Regions from separate parts of the Homo sapiens genome. Here region 2 is linked to region 1. The links come from fine-mapping of genetic effects on gene expression. A gene starts in region 1. The other region holds a variant in brackets. All regions are shown on one strand. Distances are between the middles of the regions.

Region 1 (4,391 bases):
TGAGTTCTGAGAGACAAGAGACCACAGCCTAATCAACACCTTTGCTTGTTTTTGCCAATTTACCATTCCGGGGTAAGAGAATCCTAATAGCCATGACACCATTGATCAGCTTGATCCGCATCTTTTCTGAGGGCCTATTACAGGAAATCCACTTATTTTGTTACTATTTATTGGTTACAATATAGTCTGTTGCAACCAACAGACATTAACTCAGGTTGGTTTGACCAAAACAGGAGAATTTATAAGGAAACAAACATGTCACAGAGCCTGGTACAGAAATACAGCCATGTTTAAGGAAGGGCAGTTAAGGGCTTTCTCTCAATCCTACACTTCAACTTCCCTCTGCTTCATTGTCTCTCTGCAGACCTCTGTTCTCAGCTTCTCTGTACACAAAAAAAGATATGTATGAATCCTCACAGGTGCTAAGTTAACATGTTACAGTTCCAGCTCCATAGGAAGACTCAGACTTGACTCTCTTGGTCCTAATTCTGAAACCAAGGAGAGGATCTGACTGGCCAGTTTGAGCTAGGCAAACACCTCCTAGTCCAACTTGCTCTGGTTAGTAAAACGGGAGCCAGAGACAAATCACTGTGGGTGAGTAAACAATTCCCCAACAAGAGGCAAGACAGAGAAAGGAACCTAAAGAAAATATCTTATCACATCTGTAAGCCAGTGTAGCTGAAAAGACCAAAGGGAAAATAAAGTCTCCACTATGAACAGTCAATTTTACAGGTTGTACATATAGCTGGGAGAATTTTATACATTCAGTAAATATTTATTGGGAGCTTATTATGTGTCAAATGTTGTGTCAGACTTTGGGAAATTAACAATGTACAAAACAGATACTCCTTACTAGATGTGCAGTCTAGTAGGAGACATAAAATAATGAACAGCAATTATAATACGGACTAAGGTATTGTAACAGGGGTCATGCAGGATGCTATAAGAGTACCTAAAAGGGGACTCTTACCCAGACTTAGGACATCAGGAAAAGCTTCCTAGAGATAAATCATGTCTCAGCTTGGGGCTTTAAGACAAATATTAGCAAGGAAGGGAAAAGAAAAAAATTCCAGGCACAGGTAATAAAGATCTTTACGAAGTTTCAAAGACAGGAGAAAATGACCCGTTGGAAAAAAGTAAAAGTTTGATAGGCCTGGAACCTGGAAAGGCAGGTTCTAAGTTATGGAGCCAAATAGTAGAGGGCCTTGTAAGGCAGCTACACTTTTTAAGTGCAGGAACTGGAGAGGGGCACTGAAATAACAGGAGTAGGTGTGCATTAAAAAAAAATAACAACAACAACAAACCTGTTATTCTGGCCGGTCAGCCTAGGGCCTAGAATAAATAAACAATACAGGAAGCAAGGAGACTTCCAAGTTGCCATTTTTCGATAGAAGGTTTAGCCTTCGTTCATTTGTTTCAAACCTCTCGCTTACTTATTTCCTTTCATTTGAGTTAAACATTACATTTCCATCTTTTCCTCCCTGGACCCCAAATCACGTTCGAAGCGACAGTCTGGTGCAGTGTTAGATCCGCTGCTGGGGCGCAACTCCGCGCAGCAGCAGCAACGCAAGCCCTGCTCCTCTGGCTACGCAGCTTGGAGATCTGCCTCAGCATCGTCCGCCCAGCTCCACGGCAGGTCCCAGGACGCGCAGGGCTACCTGGTATCAAACTGCCTCCGTGCGGACTGGCTCCCGCTCCCCTCATCACTTACTAGGTCTTGGGCTCAGAGATGGTTTCAGGTCGGCGTTCCAAGGCGCTCTCCTCCACCGGAGGCTCGAAGTAGGAGTTCAGAGCCCTCTGAAAAACAAAGGCACAAGGGATGAGGTTTGTGCGCTCCACCGACCTAGGTAATGGAGCCGGAAGCGAGGACAGCGAAAGCGTACTTCCATCTCCCAGTCGTTCTCGGCCAGGAAGCACTGAGCCACTGCGGCATCGCAGCTTGCGACCGAGGCAAACTCCACACACAGAAGTCGCCGCTTTTTCACCTCAGGCTCGCCCTCTTCCTCCGCCGCCTCCCTCCCGCCCTCCAGGCAACTCCCCAACTCCATCTTCCTGCCGCCTCTGCACCGCCCCTTTAAGCGGAACAGGAGGCCAACGCGCGGCTCTGCGCAGGCGCCTGTGTCATGGCGCTCCCGCATCAACCGCCCGGCGGGGAAATGCGCTGCTCTCGGAAAACTGGTGCAGCTGCGCCGCAAGGGAGCCGCCGGGGCGGTGGGTGCGAAGCGCGCATGCGCGCTTCGTCACAAGGGTGCGAGGAAAGTCAGTGAGCAAATCGCGGACCACCGGGGCTGCCAGCTCGCCTGACTCCCGGCCTCTTGCGCTCCTAGGGGCGGAGAAGGGTGCGGGCTCTTCGCCCTTTGTGTCCTCCTTCTTTCACTAACTTCTGGACTTTCCAGCTCTTCCGAAGTTCGTTCTTGCGCAAAGCCCAAAGGCTGGAAAACCGTCCACGATGACCAGCATGACTCAGTCTCTGCGGGAGGTGATAAAGGCCATGACCAAGGCTCGCAATTTTGAGAGAGTTTTGGGAAAGGTATGGGAAAGGTAGGGGAGAAGCCGTGGCTTCTAATGAAGGAAAAGAAAGCACCGTGCTTGGTGCCGTTGTGAGCTTTGAATAATTATCTCTTGTTAGGTTGTGTTCTAGTACGCCTGTAAATTCACCTTAGTAATAATGATTATTACTTTAATGGAGCCCCTAAATATGCTGGGTCGAACGCGTAAGTTCTCTATCTAAACATAGATAAGTATGGTTATGACTCGTGGAGACAGTTCCAAGGCTGGGAGGGACTTTGGAGTTTGATCCTTCAACCAACAAACGTCTGCATTGCTCCAGAGAAGAGTAAGAGAAACCTCTGCATTTAAGGCACATTACAGTCTAATTCTCTAGGCTCTAGAAGATTAGAAGATAAATAATTGCAATAAGGTACAAAAGCCAAGTGCTTGGTAGAGTGGTGAACGAAGGGAGAAGTTGTTCCTCTGTAGTGGTTTGGGAAATTTCTCAAAGGCACCCAACTCCTGAAGAAGTAAGTTAGCCCTTGGAGGAAGACTGAGTGCTTTTCTGAGACCAGCACTCACAAAGCCCGAAGGTGTTTGTTTGTTTTTGTTTTTTTAGGATGAGGTTTCGCCCTTGTTGCCTAGGCTGGAGTGCAATGGCGCGATCTCGGCTCACTGCAACCTCCACCTCCCTGGTTCAAACAATTCTCCTGCCTCACTCAGCCTCCCGAGTGGCTGGGATTACAGGCATGCGCCACCATGCCCAGCTAATATTGTACTTTTAGTAGAGACAGGGTTTCTCCATGTTGGTCAGGCTGCTCTCGAACTCCCGACCTCAGGTGAAACGCCTGCCTCCGCCTCCCAAAGTGCTGGGATTACTGGTGTGAGCCGCCACGCCAGACCTTGAAGGTGTTTGTTGTTGTTGTTGTTTTGAGATGGAGTCTTGCTCTGTTGCCCATGCGGGAGTGCAGTGACACGATCTCGGCTCACTGCAACCTCCGCCTCCTGGGTTCAAGTGATTCTCATGCCTCAGCCTTCCAAGTAGCTGGGATGATTACAGGCATGCGCCACCAAGCCTGGCTAATTCTTTATTTTTATTAGAGACAGGGTTTCATCATGTTGGTCAGGCTGGTCTCAAACTGCTGACCTCAGGTGATCCACCTGCCTTGGCCTCCCGAAGTGCTGGGATTACAGGCATGAGCCACCATGCCCCGCCAAAAGCAGGGATTTACTGAAAATGAAAGGACACTCCTGTGTTTGGGGTGTGGAGCAGCAGCTCAGGGGCCCTAATACCCCATTGAAGTCTCCTATTGGCCACTTGGTACTCATCTCATGTAAATGAAGTGGTGACCCACAATTGGCTGTGAAAAGCAACCAATGAAAGGCTAAAGTGAAGTTACAAAGTTGCCCTTATATGCAAACGAAGACGTGGCGTGCAATCAGATGGTGAAGTTACATAGTTACACTCCTATGGGAAGATCTGATTGGTTGCAGAAAGAATAATTTTTTTTAAGGGATAACTTACTTCTTAGCGTAATTTTGCTTTTTGCAACCAATCAGAGGTACTTTCAATTTCCCATCTGCCACACAGAAAAGGTGGGGGTTTGGAAAGGGAGAAGCCTCTGGTTCTTTTGTTACTTGGTGTGGGAAGTTAGGGTTTTACTTTCAATTTAGTTCTAGGAAGTCAGCGTGAAACAGCCCTAGGTTCCCTGCCTCCAGATCCGATTCTCCTGCCTCGCTTGTAAGAAAATCATGCTCCATAAGAAGCATTTATAACTAAACCTTGTGAACCCCAAAAATTTGAGACAGGTATCAGTTAATTTAGAAAGTTTATTTTGCCAAGGTTGAGGATGCGCACGCAGTGACACAGCCTCAGGAGGTCCTGACAACATGTGCCCAAG
Region 2 (4,391 bases), 37 kb before region 1:
AATTTCTGCTGAGGACTTAGTGCTCAGTCATAGCCATGGAAAGAATGAATTGGGAGGGAAGGTGATTAGGTCTTAGTGAGCATTTTCCCTCCCTCCCTTCCTTCTTTCCTTTTTTTCCTCCCTCCTTCCCTCCTTTCCTCTCTCCCTTCCTTCCTTGTTTTCTTCTGAAAGACATGATTATGGTCTGATAAACAGAGGTCAGAATTAGGGAACAAATGATACAGTGAGGAATTCACAGCAAGGGCCTACCTAGGTCATGAGCTGTGGCCCTAGCAGAATAAAGAAATGAACACGATGTGTAGCCTGAAAACTGGAATTTACCTCAAGCACCAAAGTAACCTTTCCTACTCCGTAAATGGGAAAAGAGGCCAGGACTTCCAGCAATCTTCTTACTGGTTTCAGTTCAGGGACTAACATTATGGTCTTAAAAGTACAGATAATTATCTAATGAACTGTTAATTAATCCACAGAAGACAATCTAGAAGAGGAATATTTGTGTGCATCATTTATAGTCACTATTCAAAAATTATTAAACTACTCAAATAACAGCATAAATGTTCACCAGAAGAATGCTGAAGACATGTCCTGAATGTAGGAGCCTCCTTCCAAATACTGCTTATTCTAGGGCAAAATGAACTGAGTAATTGTGCTAATGAAAAGTTAGACATTATTCATCATTGCTTCCAGGTTTTATATTATTTCAAGCACACGTAGTGCTGGAAAGCATGTCCTAATAATTACAGAACATGGGCAATAAAAACATCCTATAATGGCATTTAGCTTCCTAAATCACCATATTTTTAAAAATCTAAACTTCCTAAATAAGTAAATTTGTGGACTGTTGCTTTTATAGACCTTGTTTTAGAGTAAGTACTGGTTAGAAATGTCAGGTATTGTAATTTTCCCACCTTTTTAAGAATTTTTTTGCTTTCCGTTCAATAATTTTTCTAAGGAACCTTATGTTTTTCTGTTTTCTAGCCTGTAAGTTCTCTTTAAAGTGTTTTTATTTTAATATGTCACATTTGATTCTGAAAGAATTCATGAGACACACTTGTAAGTTTTAAAGTGCAACTGCCCTGTGGGTTTTTAAAAGATCTGACCAGGTCCAGAACACCTGTCCATTTCCGTTCCCCCATCAGGTTCTCACTGCAGTGCTTTTTTCTTTCTTTCTTTTTTTTTTTTAATACAACCCTTGCATTTACCATCTGAATTAGTTTCCTAGGGCTACTGTAACAAAGTACAGCAAACTAAGCACCGGAAAACAACAGAAATGTTTTGTAGTCTCCCACAGTTCTGGAAGCTGGAAGTTGGAAATCAACGCATCAGCTGGGCCATGTCCCTCTGAGAGTCTGATCAGAATCCTTCTTTGTCCCTTCCTAGCTTCTGATGGTGGCCGTCAATCCTCGGCGTTCCTTTGCTTGCAGCTGCATCCCTCCAATCTGTCCCTCTATTGTCACATGGAGCTCTCCTTGTGTGCCTCTGGGTCAAAATTTTCCTCTTATAAGGGCACCAGTCGCAGTGGATAAAGGGCCCTCTCATAACCTCTTCTTGATACCATCCGCAGAAACCTTATTTTTACGTAAGGTCACATTCACAGGTATTGGGGGTTAGGACTGAAAGCATCTTTTGTGGGGACACCACGCAACCCATAACACCATTGTTTGTACTTTTCAAAAGAAAAGCTTCCTGAAATTTGCCTGTCCTGTCCCATTAGCGACTGCATGAAGTACCTAGAGCAGACAGTATTTTCTAAGTTTAAGGTGAAAAACGCCATCTACCTTATAGTGAGACAAAATAACAACTCGAGCCTTTACACACTAGGGGTTTTCTTTCATCTCTGACCAAAGGAAGTCAGCCAATGATGGAATCAATGACAGTCCAGCGTGGTGGCTCACGCCTGTAACCCCAGCACTTTGGGATGCCAAGGAGGGAGGATCACGAGGTCAGGAGATTGAGACCATCCTGGCTAACACGGTGAAACCCCATCTCTACTAAAAATACAAAAAATTAGCCAGGTGCGGTGGCAGGCGCCTGCAGTCCCAGCTACTTGGGAGGCTGAGGCAGGAGAATGGCATGAACCCGGGAAGCAGAGCTTGCAATGAGCCGAGATCGTGCCACTGCACTCCAGCCTGGGCAACAGAGTGAGACTCTGTCTCAAAAAAAAAAAAAAAAAGAAAGAAAACTCAGAATACATGAAACACTTATCCCAGCATAAGGTACTGTACAGCTAAAAGTGATGGGTGTGGAATGGTAAGGCTTTCTCATGGCTGCTACCTTTTTTAAAAATAAAAAGACAAAATGAGTTATGAAACAAACCTTGTGACTGAAACGTTGCTGTCCCCGTGGCTGCTGCTTTAGATCTGAGATAAAATTTTTAATGAAGGAGATTAGTGTGATTTTCAAAATTATATGTTACAGAACCTTGGAGAGGTACACCCCAGGAGAAATGTGCTTTTATTGGCTGCATCTCTCTGCCTGGGCTCTAGCACACTGTCTGAATGGAGGCTGAGTGAATGAAATAAATC[C/T]TTCTTTAAATAGCATGACAAGGCCGGGCCTGGTGGCTCATGCCTGTAATCTCAATACTTTAGGAGGCTGAGGTGGGAGGCTCACCTGAGGTCAGGACCAGCCTGGCCAACATGCCGAAACCCCATCTCTACTAAAAATACAAAAATTAGCCGGGCATGGTGGCGCATGCCTGTGATCCCAGCTACTCGGGAGGCTGAAGCAGGAGAATTGCTTGAACCTGGGAGGTGGAGGTTGCCGTGAGAAGAGATTGTACCACTGCACTCTAGCCTGGGTGACAGAGTGAGACTCTGTCTAAAAAAATAAAAATAATAATAGCGTGACAAAAACTTACATTAAAAAAATTGCTGGGTGCAGTGGCTCACACCTGTAATCCCAGCACTTTGGGAGGCTGAGGTGGGCAGATCACTTAAGGTCAGGAGTTCGAGGCCAGTCTGGCCAATATGGTGAAACCCTTTCTCTATTAAAAATAAAAAAATTAGCCAGGTATGGTGACATGCGCCTGTAATCCCAGCTACTTGGGAGGCTGAGGCAGGAGAATTGCTTGAACCCGGGAGGCGGAGGTTGCAGTGAGCTGAGATTGCACCACTGTACTCCAGTCTGGGTGACAGAGCAAGATTCTGTCTCAAAAAAAAAAAAAAAAAAAAAAAGAAAGAACGAAAGAAAAAAGAAAAAAATTACATTAAAAAATTAGTCATTATAAATTGTACATTCCTAGAAAAAAATTATAAATCGTGCCAACAAATGGCTGCTTTTCTTCTTTTAGATTCTCGTTCCATTTATTCAATTGTGTGTATATGTGTATATATATATATATATATACACATATACACACAAACTTTAGTACAGCTATCATCTTAGAGTTGTATAATACTTTCATTCAATATTTTATCACAAAAATTATCCTTCATTGTTATATTTTTTATAATTTGTTTGCAACATTCCATTGATTATTACAATTTACTTCATCATTTCTTTGTTTCCAACTTGGGATGTTTATAAATAATGCTGGAGTGAAATGCTTCTGCAGGCTCAGAAAAGGGCAAGCTGCAGCTTTTGTATCTGAAGGGAATGGAAACAGCCCAAAGAGGGCCTCTTTCAGAGATCCAAACAGATTGTCTGCATAGCATTGTCCTACAGGCTGTTAAGAACGAGCTGTATTTATAGGTTGTCCCATTTATGGTTTACTGAGTGAGGAAACTAAGCTGGCAAAGCCCTGCTTTTTAGAGCCAGTGAACTCACAAAAGATGCAGCCATAATATATTCCTAGTTCAATTTAGCCAGTGGGGCAGCTAGGGAAGTTCTCCTCTTTTATGATTCCTCTTTCCTTGCCGTATCAGCCACTACTTTGACAAAACCTGTCTTCGCCAAGGCAGCCTTCAGCTTCAGCGGTGAATGCAGGCCATGGGTCTACCTCCTGAGCACCTCTCCAGGAGTCACAGAAACAGTGCTAGAAAGGAAGGAGGGGATTTCCCACTCATTGGGAGGGTCAACTTGATAAAACAGATAAGAGAACAATTGAAAGGAGCAATAGGTGGCATGTAGTGAAGGAGTATACGTTGGGAGAAAGAAATGGTAAGAAACAAATATGCACCAATTGCTATGGTAAATTTTACCATCTTTTCCACAGTCTTAGATTAATGCACTGTCTTACAGCCCTTGTATTACAACATAACACCACAGTTTTTTACTCCTGGAAACACTGTCCCTACATTAGGAAAAACAATTTTAGAAGGTGAAACCTTGAGTGTACACCATGTGGCTTTAAATATTCTCCCTAATTATGGAAACAACTTAGCTTTCAAATGGCTCAGCACTTTTATTTCTCCCTAAATTCAATTCTTATCTAACGGGGTCACCACTGCTAT

The links. PIP is the estimated chance that this variant, and not a neighbour inherited with it, causes the effect.
Region 2: its variant is the best candidate, but not a certain one, in a credible set for the expression of TDP2 in whole blood (TOPMed, PIP 0.82).

Annotation. Positions count from the first base shown.
Region 1 is chr6:24,664,815-24,669,205 of GRCh38, forward strand. It overlaps TDP2 (tyrosyl-DNA phosphodiesterase 2), which reads right to left and starts at 2,085. Exons shown (of 7, transcript NM_016614.3): 1 at 1,884-2,085; 2 at 1,712-1,797. The coding sequence starts at 2,048. It overlaps ACOT13 (acyl-CoA thioesterase 13), which reads left to right and starts at 2,263. Exons shown (of 3, transcript NM_018473.4): 1 at 2,263-2,530. The coding sequence starts at 2,450. It overlaps LOC124901279 (a long non-coding RNA gene), which reads right to left. Exons shown (of 2, transcript XR_007059509.1): 2 at 4,303-4,391. RefSeq lists enhancers at 1,131-1,803, 1,804-2,475, 2,007-2,301.
Region 2 is chr6:24,627,359-24,631,749 of GRCh38, forward strand. All of the region lies in intron 1 of KIAA0319, which reads right to left. Among named protein-coding and RNA genes, the nearest start is that of KIAA0319, 17 kb to the right of the region's middle. The variant C/T (reference allele first, on the strand shown) is at 2,526.